2 separate regions of the Homo sapiens genome follow, and region 1 is linked to region 2. The links come from fine-mapping of genetic effects on gene expression. A gene starts in region 2. The other region holds a variant in brackets. All regions are shown on one strand. Distances are between the middles of the regions. Region 1 overlaps TRIM14 (tripartite motif containing 14). Region 2 holds the start of TRIM14 (tripartite motif containing 14).

Region 1 (8,834 bases), 30 kb after region 2:
AGCCTGCCACATCTCAGCCTTGCTCTGGGCTCCCAGCTGGAATGACCAACTCTTCCTCCTTCTCTTCCTCTGGCTGGGGCCAAGGCCTGGCACCCCTTCGAGGCAGACTGGCACAGCTGCGCCCACCTGGGAAGCCCTTTCCTGCCAGCCCAGCCCTGACTCACTCTCTCCTTTAGCCATCTCCCCTCTCCCTTCCCGCTCCAGGGCCTGCCCATGTCCTGCTAGAGGGTGCTCATGAAGTGGATACATGGACCCCCCTCCTTGCCCCTTGTAAGCACGTGAAGGGCAGAAACCAGCTTTAGGTCCAACTCTGAGGTCCCCCCAGGGCCTGGCACAAAACATGTACTCAAAAATATCTGTTCTTTGATTCATTTATGCATTCATTCATTCATTCACCTCTGCTATCATGATTCATTCAGAACATTTATCAAGCCCCTCTTATATGCCAGGCATAGCAGGGCACAAAACAAAGCTCCTTCTCCTCTTTTGGTGCTCACAGTCTTCGTAGGGGAAGACAGACCGTACACAAACATGTCAGGTGACAGGAACTGCTATACTGCTATAAAGAATAATAAAGGCCGGGCGTGGTGGCTCACGCCTGTAATCCCAGCACTTTGGGAGGCCGAGGTGGGTGGATGATGAGGTCAGGAGTTTGAGACCAGCCTGGCCAACATGGTGAAACCCCATCTCTACTACAAATACAAAAATTAGCCAGGCATGGTGGCATGCACCTGTAATCCCAGCTACTCGGGAAGCTGAGGCAGGAGAATTGCTTGAACCCGGGAGGTGGAGGTTGCAGTGAGTTGAGATCATGCCACTGTACTTCAACCTGGGTGACAGAGCAAGACTCTGTCTCAAAAATAACAATAATAATAATAATAATAAACCAGGGCAGGATGGAAGACAGGAAAGTGACAAGGAGGAGGAGCTGTTTTATATAAGCAGTTGGGATGGCCTCTGAGAAGGGGACACTCAAGGTGGCCCAAAGGAAGCATTCATTCTGCAGGTTCTGTGGGTCTGAAGGGCCAGAGAGCACAGTGGTCATAGGCACGGCCTCTGGAGCTAGGCCTCCTGGGTTCCTATCCGAGGTCTACCACTTGGAACCCTGCTGAACCCTGCCATCTTAGACACGGCTCCTCCCTTTTCCATGCCTCTGTTTCTGCATCTGTAAAGTGGAGACCATAATGCAGTCGCCTCTCCTGGGCTGCTGTGAGGATTAAATGAGCTCTTACACATATAGCGCTCAGGCATATTAAGCACCACGTATGTCTTGGCGATTATGATTGCTGCTGCTGTTACGTCTGGGGGAGGTATTCTAGACAGAGGGAAAAGCAAGGGTGGAGGTCCTGAGGCGCGATGGGAGTGAGCTGGCCATATCGAAGGAGCAGCAATGGGGACAACAGGAGTGGACGTAGGGTCACAGGGGAGAGAGGAAAGAGATCAGAATCCAAGGATTTGGACGTGGGCAACTCGCAGAAGGAAACTGTCATTTTCTGAAGTGAGAAAGAGTATTTAGGACTGGAGGGAATGAAGTGAACCTGTTAGATTTGAGAAGTTGGACTTCCCATGTGGTGGTATCGCCTCGGCAGTAGGACCTATGATTCTAGAGTTCTGGGGAGAGGGGAGAGGCTTTTGCCTTGATGAAAGAACAACTTCAGCCAAATTAAATTTAAAGGAGTTTAAATGAGCAATGAACGATTCATGAATCCGGCAGCCCTCTGAGCCACAGTGCACTCAGAGACTCCAGCACAGCCACGTGGTGGAAGAAGATTTAGGGACAGAAAAAGGAAAGCGACGTACAGAAAACAGAAGTGAGGTACAGAAGCAGCTGGATTGGTTACAGCTCGGCGTTCGCCTAATTTGAACACAATTTGAACAGTTGGCTACATCTGATTGGCCAAAACTTGGTGATTGGCACAAGTGCAGGCTACGGTCTGTTTACACCTCCACTTGTTATTGTTCATGACGTACAGAAAAATATGTAGGCCGAACTTAAAAGATGTAAGGAGGAGCTTTAGGCAAAACTTGATTTAAACAGCCTGCAGGTGGGCTTCCCACAGATCTCTACAGGCCCCTGTGATGAGTGCTGGGAGTGATGGGGGCGGAAGGCACTTCTGCGGAGGTGCTGAGTGAGCTGCGGCCCCAATAGCTGGGAAGGAGGCAACCTGGGCAAGGGGGGAAGGGTGTGGGGGGGCTGTCCAGGCAGAGGGCACAGCAAGTGCCAAGGGCCCTGGGTGCCCCTGCTGTGCCCGCTTGTTGGGATAGACTCCCCTCCTTCTTTCTTTCTGAGCACTCAGACCTTCCTGAGGACTCAGCTCTACTTTCTTGTTTTCCATCTTTACCCTGGAATCTGCACATCTTCCCTGAGTCGCCGCCCATCCTTGAGTGTTGGATCCAGTAGTTGTTCGCGCCTCAGCTCCTCCTCCTATTTAGGACTCTCCCACACCAGCCTTGTCATCCTGGGGTTTTCCTGTCCCTGTGAATTCACATAAATCCCTTAAATCTGCCTGGCTCTTGGGCGAGATTATGCGAATCTCCAGTTGTGTGGTATTTTTAGCACGTCTTATTTGTCTGCTTGCATAAGCTCCGGGCGCTCATTTCTCAACAATTCCTTACAGGCATAAACTGCCAGCTCTCAGACCCTTCCAGCACCAAGCCAGGTACCTTGTTGAAAACCAGCCCCTCACCAGAGCGATCGCTATTGCTGAAATGTAAGACCCCCGGGAGTGGGGATAGGGTGGAGACGGTGGAGATGGTGGGATGTTGGGTGGAGGAGGATCATGGAAATGGAGGTCCCTCTTTTTTTCTCATTAGAATTTATTTATTTATTTATTTTAAGAACTTGTTTTTTAAAAAATGTTTATTATTAAAGGCAATAAAACAATACATGTTCATTGTAGAAAAATTAGAAAATGAAAGAAAAAAGTTACTCATAATCCCTCTTCTGTGAATAACTGCTATTATTATTTGTCCTTTTAGCTTTTTTAGCACATCTAATATGCATATAATGATATATTTAATATATCTTTTTATGTTACAAACGTGGTGTCATACTATACATACTGTTTTGTCATCTGTTTTCATTTACTGATATATTATGAACATATATATATTTGGGATTTATACAGTGAGCCACTGTGCCCAGCTAATATTATCACTATGTGTGTGTGTGTGTGTGACCGAGTCTTGCTCTGGAGTGCAGTGGTGCAGTCATGGCTCACTGCAGCCTCGACCTCTTGGGCACAAATGATTTTCCCACCTCAGCCTCCCTCATAGCTGGGACTATCAGTGTGTGCCACCATGCCCAGCTAATTTTTTATTTTTATCATTGTTTTTAGAGGTTGCATGGCATTGCATTGAATGGATGTGTCATATTTAGCCAATCTCATAATGTTGGATGTTTACATTTTCATTTCTAAAACAATGCTGTAATAAACATCCATTCTTGTACACATTTGTTGAATTGAATTAATGAATGAGAGAATGAACACACCATACCTCATTTTCAGATTATTTTTTAGGAGTAATTTCTCAAGTGGAATTACTGGGTGTCAACCTAAAAAAGACTCAATCTAAAGAAGGCTCAGTATCCAGTTAGCAGAGTTTATTCAAGTGCAAAGTAACCATCAGGAGACAGAGGGAAACCAAAGAATGGTGATCACTGCCCCTGGTGTTGGGAGGGGGACAGTGAATATCAAAACAGAGGCACTGAATAAATTTACATTTTCCATACAAAGGCTAACATACTGATTTAAAGGCCGAGCACGGTGGCTCACACCTGTAATCCCAGCACTTTGGGAACCCAAGGCAGGTGGATCACTTGAGGTCAGCAGTTCGAGACCAGCCTGCACAACATGGTGAAACCCTGTCTCCACTAAAAATACAAAAATTAGCTGGGCATGGTGGCATGCACCAGTAGTCCTAGCTGCTCAGGAGACTGAGGCAGGAGAATCGCTTGAACCCGGGAGGCGAAGGTTGCAGTGAGCCGAGGTCGCACTACTGCACTCCAGCCTGGCAACAGAGCAAGACTCCGTCTTAAAAAAAAAAAAAAAAAAAAAAGTGCACAAATCAAAAATGTGCAGATCAATCAGCTCAATGATTTTTTAAAAAGGAAACATATTTTGTAACCACCTTCAGATCAAGAAATGGAAATTTCCACTCCCCAGAAGTCTTCCTCATGTGCCTTCTTGTTTACTATCCCCAAAGGGGATCCACTCTCCAGACTTCTAGGACTATAGGTTAGTTTTACCTGTTTTTGAACTTTCAGTAGATCATTCACACTATACCCTTCTGTGTTTTGCTTCTTTCACTCAATATGAGATTTATCCATTTTTGTATATTGACATACTGAGTGGCTGTTATAAATTCACTTAGTACTTCTAAGCTATCTACAGATTATTTGGGTTTTTGTGTAAATAAGCATGTCACCTATGAATAATAATCTTTCATTTCCCCGATCTTTATTCTTTCCTTTCACTTCTTTTTCGTGCCTTGAGTTACTGTCTACTACATTTAGAACATTGTTGAATAGAAGTGGTTATAATGAGCAGCATTTTCTCCCACCTTAGACATATATCCAACAGAAATGCATACATATGTGAATCAAAAGACCTGCACAAGAATGTTATGTGACCGAAACACAGGTTCAGTTGCTCAACGCTTTGCAGAGTTCAATTAACAAGAGCGAGGTCTGGTATAAAGAAAGTGGTTTTATTCTAAAGATTAGCTTAGGGGAAGAGGTACAGGCTCCTCCTGCCCTTAACGGTACCGCCTCACTTTTGGGGCAGAAAGCAGAGGCTTTTAAATGGGGACTTTGTATGAATGGCATGCAGGGAAGGAGCAAGCAGATGGGGGTCTATATGACTCATTTTGATGCGTTTTCTACCAAGTGGTTGAGCTGGTGCCATTGAGGGCAGAACTAGGTTGTAATGTGGCCGTTGTCTTGAGATGCTGTCCGGGTGGAAGAGTTCTGTTGAAGGCATACTTTATGTTGTAAATTGACTGTTGTCTCTTAAGGCAATCTCCTGGTGGGAGAAAGTTCTGGTTCTAGACCCTCTAAGTAGGTAGATAAGTTTGCCCTGTAGGGACTATCTGGTGAAGGGAAGGTAATGGTTATAATTACATTTCTAAAGAGCTAAGTAGAGGCAGGGCACAGTGGCTCACACCTGTAACCACAGCA[C/T]TTTGGGAGGCTGAGGCAGGCGGATCACCGGAGGTCAGGAGATCAAGACCAGCCTGGCCAACATGATGAAACCCTGTCTCTACTGAAAATACAAAAATTAGCCAGGCGTGGTGGCAGGTGCCTGTAATCCTAGTTACTAGGGAGCCTTAGGTAGGAGAATCGCTTGAACCCAGGAGGCCGAGGTTGCAGTGAGTCGAGATCACACCACTGCACTCCAGCCCGGGCAACAAGAGTGAAACTCCATCTTAAAAAAAATAAAAATAAAGAGCTAAGTAGGAAGTGGGAGACAGGAGAAAAAGGGGGAAAATCTTAAAAATAATTCATTCTCTTTCTCTTAGAAAAATGCTCTTTTTCTTAGAAAACTCAGTCTCTGTTACACGTTTACAGTTATAGCAACATTAGTCACAATAGGCAACACGGAAACAATCCAAATGTCCATGGAAAACTGTTTGGCCTTGTTTATGAAAGCTGAATATCCACATACCCTGTGATCCAGACTTAAAAAACAACAACAACAACAACAAAAAAAACTTCATGTGTACATACATGGTGTAATGCAAAGAGAAATGTTAATGAGAGTTTAAATCACTACAAACTTTGGGGAGGATAGTTTTGCAATATGTATCAAAGACCTTAAAAAAATACCCATTGACCCAGCAATTCCTGTTTTAGGAGTATATTCTACAGAAGCAATCAGATACGTAAAAATGTAATTGTATTAGTGGTTTCAAAAGCTTTTTAAACGGAGGACTAAGTTATGCGTCCAAACATCAAAATTTTAGAATCTCCACTAAAATGCTCTTGTGAAAGGATATTATGATGTGTCAAAATGCCTCACAAGTAGATCAATCAATTTTAAAAAGCAGATTACCTAACGTCATGTATGGTGTGACACCAATATTAAGAAAAGCTATAAAAATTAGCCGGGCGTGGTGGTGGGCGCCTGTAGTCCCAGCTACTCGGGAGGCTGAGGCAGGAGAATGGCCTGAACCTGGGAGGCGGAGCTTGCAGTGAGCGGAGATCGCGCCACTGCACTCCAGCCTGGGCAACAGAGCGAGACTCCGTTTCAAAAAAAGAAAAAAAAGAAAAAGAAAAGCTATAAAGCAGCAAGGGGAGGGGAAAGATAGGAAGTACACACACCCTAATGTTAACAGTGATAGGATTAGTTTTAATTAAATTTGTATTAATTGGCAACAAATTTCACGGCACAAAATACAGACAGTATAAGGGATGTGCAGCAGAGTGATCTCTTCTTCCCCTTTCCCCAAGACCCCGCCCCAGGGGCAGTCGCGGTTTAAAGGGGTCTGTCACCCCTTCCTTGGGCCATTTCCGCGCTTCGCATTTTGTGATTTGCACGTGCGTTGGTGGGTTCCCGGGGGCGGGGCGCCGCGCTGGCCCCGCCCACCAGGTGCGTCCCTTGTCTCGCCCCCTGCAGACGCGCGCACGCCCACGCTGGATCCTGACACGATGCACGCGCGCCTGCGCCTGTCCGCCGATCGCCTGACGGTGCGCTGCGGCCTGCTGGGCAGCCTGGGGCCCGTGCCCGTGCTGCGGTTCGACGCGCTCTGGCAAGTGCTGGCTCGTGACTGCTTCGCCACCGGCCGCCACTACTGGGAGGTTGACGTGCAGGAGGCGGGCGCCGGCTGGTGGGTGGGCGCGGCCTACGCCTCCCTTCGGCGCCGCGGGGCCTCGGCCGCCGCCCGCCTGGGCTGCAACCGCCAGTCCTGGTGCCTCAAGCGCTACGACCTTGAGTACTGGGCCTTCCACGACGGCCAGCGCAGCCGCCTGCGGCCCCGCGACGACCTCGACCGGCTCGGCGTCTTCCTGGACTACGAGGCCGGCGTCCTCGCCTTCTACGACGTGACGGGCGGCATGAGCCACCTGCATACCTTCCGCGCCACGTTCCAGGAGCCGCTCTACCCGGCCCTGCGGCTCTGGGAGGGGGCCATCAGCATCCCCCGGCTGCCCTAGGGGCCAGGACCGGCGTGACAGCCTCCAGGTACGCCGCAGCTGCCCAGTCTCGCCTAATCTACCTAGATCAGCGTGGCTGGTCCCCTTACTGCCTGCTTCTTAGGGCCCTCTCCCTGCCCCAGCTTTCCCCGACCAATCACGCCTACAGTGCTTTGAAGGTTTCCTCTCCTAGGCTAGTTTCAAACAGGCCCTAAACAAGTCTGCTGCTGCCCTCTCATCAGACCTCCGCACCCTCACCCCACCATCACTTACACTACTTTAATCCAGTTCCTTCAAAGTGATACCCCCACAGGTAAGCCCTCAGCATCCTGAATACATCATCCGCAGCCTGGGAACCTTCTCCCTCGTACAGCACAGGAACCTGACACATAGTAGGCACACAGTAAACGTTTGTGAATGAATGGGAGTCATCCAGTCCTGACTCTTCTGTCTCTTGAGGTCCCTTGAATCTTCCGCTTCCTCCCCACCGATTTCAGCGTGTCCACATCACAGCTCCCTCCAGAAGCTGCAAGAGCTTCTTAGCAGTTCCTGGTCTGAACCCTCTCCCAGTCCTCATCTTCCACCCTAAAACTAGAGTGATCTTCCTAAAACTTCACTTAACCCCTCAGCTATGAAAAGGCTTCCAGGAGTTTCCATGAAATAACAAAAAAAAATACAAGCGCCTCACCTTAGCATTCAAGGCTTGTCTAGTCTGCCCAAAATTACTTATCCTCACCTAGCTCCTACCACTCTTCTTAGAGACTCTCCAGTCAGAAATGTGTCGCATAGTTCCACCTCCACACCTCTCTGCTGCCAGCACATTCATGCAGAAAAGTCTTTTCACCTGTCTCAGTCTTCCGCAGGCTTACCTGCGCCAGGAAGTCTAACCAAGGAACAAGAATCTCACTATCAGAGCCACAAATCTGGGACCTGTCTTTCCAACTAAATTGGAGGCTTTGGAAGGGCAGCTTTGTCCTATACTCTCTCCACCCTGAAAAGTTCCCAGAAAGCCCCTTCCCTCCCAAGCAGTGAATTAATAACCAGCAGGTGCCTATCACTGAGTAACAGAAGAGCTGAGTTAGGCGGGCCTCACAGGTCACCCAGCCAGATCTCATCTGGGGAGTCTGAGGTCCTGAAAGAAAGCAGAGCTGCGTAAAGTTACCCCGGGGTGATATAGGGGGGCCAGACGTGTGCCCCGTTCACCCACCCCCAGGCAAGCATCTGACCTGTCCCCTGGCCCAGCCCTTAGGCCCAGCTTTCAACCTGCTTACTCATTTCTCAGGGGATTTTGGGAAGGAATCAGCAGGTGACAGTTGCTAAGCAACCAAAGGGGGTGGTGTTTCCCAACTGTCTTGGGACAAAAAGGGTAAGAGCACCCTTAGATCCAGATGTTGCCAAGGAAACCCAGAGTGCCCAGCTGTCTGGAATGAAGTGACAGAGGTAGAAAACAGTAGGCCCTCACAGGAGGCCACCTTCGCTAGCAGGGAGTGGGAGGCTTCTTTCCAGGGATTTGTGTCTCCGTTCTGAAGGTTCTGCGTCCTGTTTTGTCAATTCCCTAGACGGTTTTGAAGTTATATTCTGTTAAAGCATCTTCATAGGTGCTTGGTGGGAGGCCAAGGTCGCCGAATCCTCGTGGTTTAAATAGACTTTCAGTGCATTAGTTTGAACCATATAAAACTGACAATTTTCAATAGTTTTTGAGTTA
Region 2 (8,834 bases):
GCTGGGCGTGGTGGCAGGCGCCTGTAATTCCAGCGACTTGGGAGGCTGAGGCAGGAGAATTGCTTGAAACCGGAAGGCGGGGGTTGCAGTGAGCTGAGATTGTGCCACTGCACTCTAACCTGGGCAATAAGAGCAAAAGTCTGTCTCAAAAAAAAAAAAAAAAGAAAGAAACCAGCCTGGCCAACATGGTGAAACCCCGTCTCTACTAAAAATACAAAAATTAGGCAGGGCGTGGTGGTTCACGCCTATAATCCCAGAACTTTGGGAGGCCAAGCTGGGCGGATCTTCTGAGGTCAGGAGTTCAAGACCAGCCTGGCCAACATGGTGAAACCCCGTCTCCACTAAAAATAAAAAATTAACCAGGCATGGTGGTGCATGCCTGTAATCCCAGCTATTTGGGAGGCTGAGGCAGGAGAATCGCTTGAGCCTGGGAGGCGGAGGTTGCAGTGAACCAAGATCATGCCACTTCACTCCAGCCTGGGTGACAGAGTGAGACTCCGTCTCAAAAAAAAAAAGTTGGCCAGCCGTGGTGGTGAGCGTCTGTAGTCCCTGCTATTCGGGAGGCTGAGATAGGAGAATTGCTTGAACCTGGGAGGTGGAGGTTGCTATGAGCCACGATTGCGGACTGCACTGCAGCCTGGGTGACAGAGCGAGACTCCATCTCCAAAAAAAAAAAAAAAAAGAGAGAGAGAATAGGGGAAGACTAAGCAGGAAGGCTGTGTCTCCCTTCCCCACACTGTATTCCAACCAGACAGCTCCCTTCTATTTTATATGTTGGGCTAGTATGAAAAACAATTCTGCTAGGAAAAAAAAATTTTTTTAGAAGTTTGAAAGCTAGTGATTTGACCCAAGTTCCTCATTTTACAGCTGGGGAAACTAAGGCCTAGAGAGAGGCAAGTGATATTTGTTTCATGGCAGGGCTGGGCTGAGATCCTGCTTTTCTGGGTCTGTCTTTTTGCTCTTTTGGGTCTGATGCAGTTCTCAGCCCAAAGAGTAGAAATCTGTTGCTTCTGGCCTCAGCTGTGCCCCAGCTTACTCAGTGACCTCTTGCAAGTCCTGCCCTCTCTGGTCTCAGTTTCTTCATCTGAACCAGGGGTACCCTGGAACAAGCTGCTCTCTGCAGGATCTGCCACCTGAAACCTTGACCTAAGAGAAAACTACCTGTGGGGTGATCTGGGTTTGCTACAGAAACTAACGGACACTGGCAAGGGGTCAGAGGCATTCAACCCAATTCTACAACACAGGCAGGTGGTCAAAACCAACCTTTCCAACCAGAATCAGCCTGATATGGATAGATGCTGTCCCTTATGGAGGGACGCAGACTTCAGAACTGTGCCCATGACTGCTGACTGCCACCACCAAGGCCCTCAGGTACACAGCCTGCCTCCTGCAGGATGATGTGGGCAGATTTCAGCCCTAGTTAACAGAAGAGTCCCCCAGGAGGTAGGGGGCCCCCATCACTGGAGACATGCCAGCAGAGCCTCTGGCCACCTAACCAGGAGGTCTTCTGAAATGACTATACGAGGTAAAGAAGTAGTACCAGATGGTCCCAAAGTTCCCTTTTAGCCTGAAAGCTTTTCTTTGTCCCTCCTTAGTGAATCTGTGTTCCGAGCCCTACTCTAAAGTTCAGTGGTCAATACAATAGTCCACCAAGAGACTGGGAATGATTAGAAGTGAAATTGGTCCCTCCTTACCAAGGAGGGGCAGATGATCTCCATTGCACAGGGCGATTAGATTCTGGAGCTGAGGTGGGGACTGCAGGAGGCCACCTAGTCTGGTAGGTTTCAACCCAAGCTGTGTACATTAGAATTCCCTTGGGAGCGTGCAGGAAATACAGATGCCCATGCCACATTCCAGACCAACTGAAGCTGAATCTCCAGAGTAGGGCCTGTATGGTCATATAAGCTCCACAGGTGATCTGCAGTACAGTGAAGATGGAAGACTGCATGTGTACCTATTTGCAATAAAGATGAAGAGGACAGCAAGCTCCAGACAGGAGCTGGGACTCAACCCAGATCTCTTAAGTCCTGCCTGGTGGCTCCTTAAAAGTCCAGAAGTGTTGCCCCAAGCCCTCCCTCAACATCTCTGGGAACCGCAGCTGCAGCACGATGGGGGTTCAGTGCCCCTGTTTGCCCCTTACCCAGCTGTGGTTTATTCTGCTTGTATGTCTGCACAGGCCGGATGCTCGTGTTCCTTGTCTTATTCTCCATTTACTCAGTCACTGGGGCTCACTCCCGTCTGATGCACTAGCCAAGATTGCCTTAGTGTGCTCCAGAAAAGAAGGCCAAATCCCAGGCATTGTCAGGGCAGCAGAGCTCTACAGGATAGGCTTACCTTTCCCACCTGTGTGGCTAGCACTTCACAGTTTACAAATTCCTCCCACCTCCACTCAGTGACACATGCTGTTCTAACACAGGTCAGGCAGGCATTACAGTCCCCATGTTCAGAATCAAAGACCTAGCCTCAGAGAAGTGAAGAAACATCATGCCAAGGTCATTGACTGCCAAGCGGTAGAGGTGGGGTTGCATCCAGAGAGCTTCCCGGTATGCCTCTGCACAATGCCATTCCTTGGCCAGCTCCCTCCACCCCAAGGGACCCAGACTGCACACTTAACAAACAGGACACAGGTGTCTTTGAACAAACTTTTTTGTATTATTATTTTTACATCTAGAATAAATTATTTAAATTATTTCACAGCAAGGGAGAGGGATAGGTAATTTTTATCAGATATTTTTTTAAACCATCTGTTTTTTAAATTACATTTTTGTTTATGTTCTTGAGCTGATGTAGTGGAACTTGCCTAGCACATTCAGGTCCCAGCCAGTTGGCAGAGCATGCTCTCATCTCCTTATTCCATACCCTGGGCGTCCCCTTTCTGTTGACTCAGGAACTTTCTGAGAATGAGGACAGCACTAGGAGATGAGCTTTGGCAGGTATCCACCTTAACGCTACAATAATTGTGCTTCCTGAAACAAAACTTGAGATTGTATCATAGAAGGAAACAGGAAGTCAGAAATCAAATCTATGCTTTTAATTGAAACCGTGCCTGAAACAGTTTGAATGATTGTTTTAATGTTGTTTCTGAAATTCCTTGTACCTTTGTGAAAAATAATGATAATAAATAAAAGTGAAAATAAATAGATGTGGAATATGCAATGGAAATAATGTAACAAAATAATAAACATCTGGCCATTTTACTACAAGGAGCTTTCCTTTTCTTGATTTGTTCCACAAATACCAATTAACTATCTACTCTTGGAGTCAGACACCAAGCTGGAAAACAGGCAGAACAGACAGTCTTTGCCCTCTCCAGTTTTCAGTCATGGCTGCGGGAATGGGGAGGGCCAGGATAGGGAAAGCATAGGCTGTTCTGGAAGGAGAAGGAGGGAAGGCTTCCTGGAGGAAAAGATAGTAAGGTAGAAACCTGCAGAGTAAGTTGGAATACTCAGGGCAAAGGGCATTTGGGAAGAAGAATGTTCCAAGCAGGGTAAACTGCACGTCCCCCAGTCTTGAAAAAGCACAGGGTGGAGCATAGGCAGGGCGGAGACCAAGGATCTTAAGAAAGAGCTGAGGGCTTTATAAGTGGAAGTCTAGACTTGAGCCTGGGGGGGCAACTGGAATTTGGGGTGGTGGTGTGTGTGTGAAAGTTGTCAGTACCAAAACAGAGTCACTTACATCAAAACCAAACTAAATGGTGCTCCTGTAGTCCCAGCTACTCCAGAGATGAGGTGGGAAGATCACTTGAGCCCAGGAGTTAGAGGCTGCAGTGAGCTATGATCGCACTATTGCACTCCAGCCTGGGCAACAGAGCGAGATCCTGTCTCAAACAAACTAAATGGTGCTGGGAGGCCATGAAGTGGGGGGCCCTCATCAACGATTTGCCTGGTAACAGGAACTATTATTGCAAAAGATTCCACCAAACTGCAACCTTGCACAAAGAACCACAACCTTGCACAAAAGCCATGATATGAGGACATCTGCCCAGCAACTGCCTGTTCAACTTTTGGACTGAAGCCACCTGTATTAATTCTTGTAACCAAGTATTATTATTTTAAAACGATCTGGCCGGGCGCGGTGGATCACGCCTGTAATCCCAGCACTTTGGGAGGCCGAGGCGGGCAGATCACGGGGTCAGGAGATCGAGACCATCCTGGCTAAAACAGTGAAACCCCTTTTCTACTAAAAATACAAAAAATTAGCCGGGCGTGGTGGCGGGCGCCTGTAGTTCCAGCTACTCGGGAGGCTGAAGCAGGAGAATGGCGTGAACCCGGGAGGCGGAGCTTGCAGTGAGCAGAGATGGCGCCACTGCACTCCAGCCTGGGCGACAGACCGAGACTCCGTCTCCAAAAAAAAAAAAAAAAAAAAAAAACAAAAACAAACAAACAAACAAAAAAAACAGTATATGCAATCCTCCTCGTTTTGCCTTTAAAAGCCTCTGCTTTCCTTTGCCTCCCTGAGTACTCCGCGTCCCCACCCCTTGGGTGCCATGGCACATTTATTCCCGAATTGCAATCCTTCTGCTCAGTCCGAAATAAACTCAATTGGAGAATCTCTGTGTCCTTATTTGAGGTTGATGAAGGTATCTTACAGTTGTGGGAATGATTATCTTTCCGGGGAAAAGGGCAAGAGAGGATCAAGGGAAAGTGAGAGGAGCACCCCCGGAAGGTCACAGCCAACTTTGGTCCCATCATCAGGGCTGCAGTTTTCTGGGCGTTACTGGAACAGCGTCATTAAGCAGGAAGCCCACCCTCTCCTAGCTGGCTCATTAGGAGCTTCCCATTTCTGGTGGGACCACCTCCCGGCCTGGGCGGGCAGAGGGAGCACCCTGCTGGTCGGAGGATGCTCCGAGGCCCGACGCTGCTCCCGGCGGGCTGTCATCCTCCTAGGGGTCGGCCGGCCGGCCTGGAGCCGCCCCGCCCACGGCCGAGGTTTCGGTTTCCCTTGGGAGCCCCGCCCTGTGTCCCGGGGAGCCGGAGGAGGTGGAGATGAATGGCGGGCGCGGCGACCGGGAGCCGGACCCCTGGGAGGTCGGAGCTTGTCGAGGGATGCGGCTGGCGCTGCCCGGAGCATGGCGACCGCGTGGCTGAGCTCTTCTGTCGCCGCTGCCGCCGCTGCGTGTGCGCGCTTTGCCCGGTGCTGGGCGCGCACCGTGGCCACCCTGTGGGCCTGGCGCTGGAGGCAGCGGTGCACGTGCAGGTGGGGACGATGGGGACGGGGTTCGCCGCGCGGGAGTTGGGGGAGCCAGCCCAGGCATAACGGCCGAGGAGGGGGCGTGCCTGGCCGTGGCCAGTGGCGGGTTACAACCTGGAAACCAAAGGTGCCCCAGAGGGCGTCTAAGCGGTCGACCGAAAGTTCAGAGCGGGAGCCTGAGACCCAAGGAAGGGCAAAGGCGAGCCAAAGCCATCAGTTGAGCTTCAGAAAAGGTGGGTTTAGGAGTGAGAGGTTGGGAGCCCAGGCTGGTACCCAGATGTCCTTGACCGTGTCCACCATGGCCGATCCGCCACACTGCCATTGGGCTGGAAGACAGTCTGCCTTTTAGTTAACAGAGGTACAAACTCTCCCTCTTAATAAACAGCCCTGTGTAGCTCAGAAAGCCACACAGACATCTCAGGTTTACTTAATCTGCAGTCCACAGAAAGGGCCTGTGAACTTTGAGCTGAGGACGGCCTGACTGCCCTGGGAGCAGCCTCAGCTGTCACTACCTACCTCCTCTCCCCTCCCCGGCCACACAGACACTCCCATTCCTGCTCATAGCAGCCCTGGGTGAGCCATTATTATTACAGCCATTTTATAGGCCACAAGAGGAAGGCTCTGGAGGCAGGGGCAGGCCTTGAACCCAGGACTCCATTAGCCAGATGCCCCCAACAGGGCCATTGTCACCGTGGAACCCTTACCCATGCATAATCCTAACAGTGCCCCAGGGGCTCTGGGCTCCTGCTCCAGCTTCCCAGCTGACTTTTTCTGTGGCTTCTCTCAAATCCTTCTCTCTCTCTGGGTTTCATGAAGCCTGGGTGAGGTAGGCCCTCATGTCTGACAGCTGTTGATCCTACCACTTGTCTCCAAGAAGTCTTCTGTGATGAATTCAGCCCCATCGTGAGCCTTTCTCCGGTACTGCATGACTCCAGACCACCACACTGTGACAACCTTGGAACTCCAAGGTGAAAAGGGGATCATGGGGGACAATCCAGTGGAGTCGTGGGCTCAAGACCTGTCCCTGCCACCAGACCCTTCCTTTTTTTAACGTATGAAATGGCTGTAATTATAATAATGGCTCCTTGAAAAACTGTTATTCAGAATTAACAAGGCTGCTTTCCACAGATCTGGCTCAAGAGTCTCACCCATCCATTTGTCCATCCCCCTACCCACTACCTACTGTCAACTTGAAGTAATAAGATTCAGAAAATATGATTAAGTACAGAGTTTATCCAAGCCTAAAGCTTGAGGATGGCCAACTGGGACCATAGATTCAAATTTCTGTGACTATCCACTCTGATTAGCAGCAGTTACATATAAGTTTTTAAGGAAAAAAGAAGAAGCAGTTCCTAAATTGTTTACCAAGAATTTACATTAAAATGACATAAGCAGTCGGGCACAGTGGCTCATGCCTGTAATCCCAGCACTTTGGGAGGCTGAGGCAGGAGGATCACATGAGGCCAAGGGTTTGAGGCCTGGCCAACATGGGGAAACCCCGTCTCTATTAAAAAATATGAAAATCAGCCAGGTGTGGTGGTACACATCTGTAATCCCAGCTACTCAGGAGGCTGAGGCATGAGAATCGCTTGAACCTGGGAGATGGAGGTTGCAATGAGCCGAGATCACGCCACCGCACTCCAGCCTGGATGACAGAGTGAGACTTTGTCTTAAATAAATAAATAAATAAATAAATAAATAAATAAATAAAACAGAGAATCTCTATGGCAGAACAACACCAAACCTATTCCACTGGGGAGTCAACTAAAAACATCACGAAGAAAATCCCAAGCCTTCTTTAAAAGCCAGGAATTGGCTTCTAAAACTTTTTCTACAACCTTCCTTGTTGTAGCCAGGAAATAATTCAGGATTTAGTCCAAATTGCAGGAAAATAAAAACTAAAAAACAATGGCCAGGGCTGGAATCTAATAACAGGAATAACAGGTGTGCATAACAGGTGTGCTAAGATTTTCTTCTGAAACATAATTTTTCTCTCTCTAGTTCCCTGTTTTTACCAAAAATGAGTCTTGATAGGACAAATTTACTTGCAAAGTAAGTTTTAATATTACACTTGGCCTGATAATTTGCATTATTGGAACTTTCATAAGGAATTTTGGATTTGACTTTTTTTTTTTTTTTTTTGAGACACAGGGTCTCACTCTGTCACCCAGACTAGAGTGCAATGGCATGATCGTGGCTCACTGCAACCTCCACCTCCCAGGGTCAAGCAATCCTCCTACCTTGGCCTCCCAAGTAGCTGGGACTATAGGTATGCACCACCACACCTGGCTAATTTTTTTTTTGTATTTTTTTTGTAGAGACGGGGTTTCACCATGTTGTCCAGGCTGGTCTAGAATTCCTGGGCTCAAGTGATCCTCTTGCCTCAGCCTTCCAAAGTGCTGGGATTATAGGCGTGAAACACCACGCCTGGCCTGGATTTGACTTTTAAAAGCCTTACAGCTAAAAAGCCAAACCAAGGATTCACCATCAGACTATGCCTGTGATACCCATACACATTGGGTGAATTATTCTCTTCTCAAGGTCCCAAAATATCTTGAGGTTCCTAGACCTGTCGGAAAGTGACATTCTTTTCTTACCACAAGGTCGGGAACCTTGTAAGGGAACTGTGTAGACAAGGACCAAGCTAGTCCAGTCTTTCCAAGGATTTTTTTTTTTTTTTTTTTTTGAGACAGGGTCTCACTCTGTTGCCCAGGCTGGAGTGTGGTGGTGCAATTTTGGCTCACTGCAGCCTCCACCTCCCAGGTTCAAGTGATTCTCCCACTTCAGCTTCCTGAGTAGCTGGAACTACAGGTGTGCACCACCACTCCTGGCTAATTTTTGTATTTGTTGGTAGAGATGTGGCTTCACCATGTTGGCCAGGGTGGTCTTGAAAACTCCGACCTCAAGTGAACTGCCCACCTCAGTGTCCCAAAGTGCTGGGCCCCCTTTTATTGTATTTTATTTTATTCTTGTTAACATTTTTTAATAGAGGCGGGGTCTCACTATGTTGCCCAGGCTGGTTTCAAACTCCTGGACTCAAGTGATCCACCTACCTCAGCCTCCCAAAGTGCTGGGATTACAGACCTGAGCCACCAAGCCTGGCCCCCAAGGGTCTTCTTATGGGCTCTGTAAACTTGACTTCAGTTCCTGAAAGCAGTCTGATCATATATGAAGATATATCATTTCAGTCAAAGCCTTGGTAAAATTACCAGTGTCTCCAATGTGGTCTGTTATGAAAGAAAACATACTCTTATTGAACTTATGCAAATAACTATATTGTCATAAAATAAGAATACTCACAAATAGCCAGGTGCGGTGGCTCACGCCTGTAAACCCAGCACTTTGGGAGGCTGTGGTGGGCGGATCAGTTGAGGTCAGGAGTTGGAGATCAGCCTGGCCAACATGGTGAAACCCCATCTTTACTAAAAATACAAAAATTGTGCTGGGCTCAGTGGCTCACGCCTGTAATCCTAGCACTTTGGGAGGCCAAAGTGGGTGGATCACGAGGTCAGAAGTTCGAGACCAGTATGACCAACATGGTGAAACCTATCTCTACTAAGAATGCAAAAATTAGCTGGGCATGGTGGTGGGCACCTGTAATCCCAGCTACTCGGGAGGCTGAGGCAGGAGAACTGCTTGAACCC

The links. PIP is the estimated chance that this variant, and not a neighbour inherited with it, causes the effect.
Region 1: its variant is fine-mapped to the expression of TRIM14 in tibial nerve (GTEx, PIP 0.96).

Annotation. Positions count from the first base shown.
Region 1 is chr9:98,085,786-98,094,619 of GRCh38, reverse strand. TRIM14 (tripartite motif containing 14) reads left to right here. Exons shown (of 6, transcript NM_014788.4): 5 at 2,619-2,711; 6 at 6,615-8,834. The coding sequence ends at 7,150. Among named protein-coding and RNA genes, the nearest start is that of TRIM14, 29 kb to the left of the region's middle. RefSeq lists enhancers at 3,409-3,968, 6,339-7,012, 7,013-7,687 and a silencer at 6,660-6,929. The variant C/T (reference allele first, on the strand shown) is at 5,180.
Region 2 is chr9:98,115,344-98,124,177 of GRCh38, reverse strand. It overlaps TRIM14 (tripartite motif containing 14), which reads left to right and starts at 4,956. Exons shown (of 6, transcript NM_014788.4): 1 at 4,956-5,196. The coding sequence starts at 4,990. CORO2A (coronin 2A) reads left to right here. Exons shown (of 12, transcript NM_052820.4): 12 at 1-3,203. RefSeq lists a silencer at 5,023-5,122 and an enhancer at 5,433-5,482.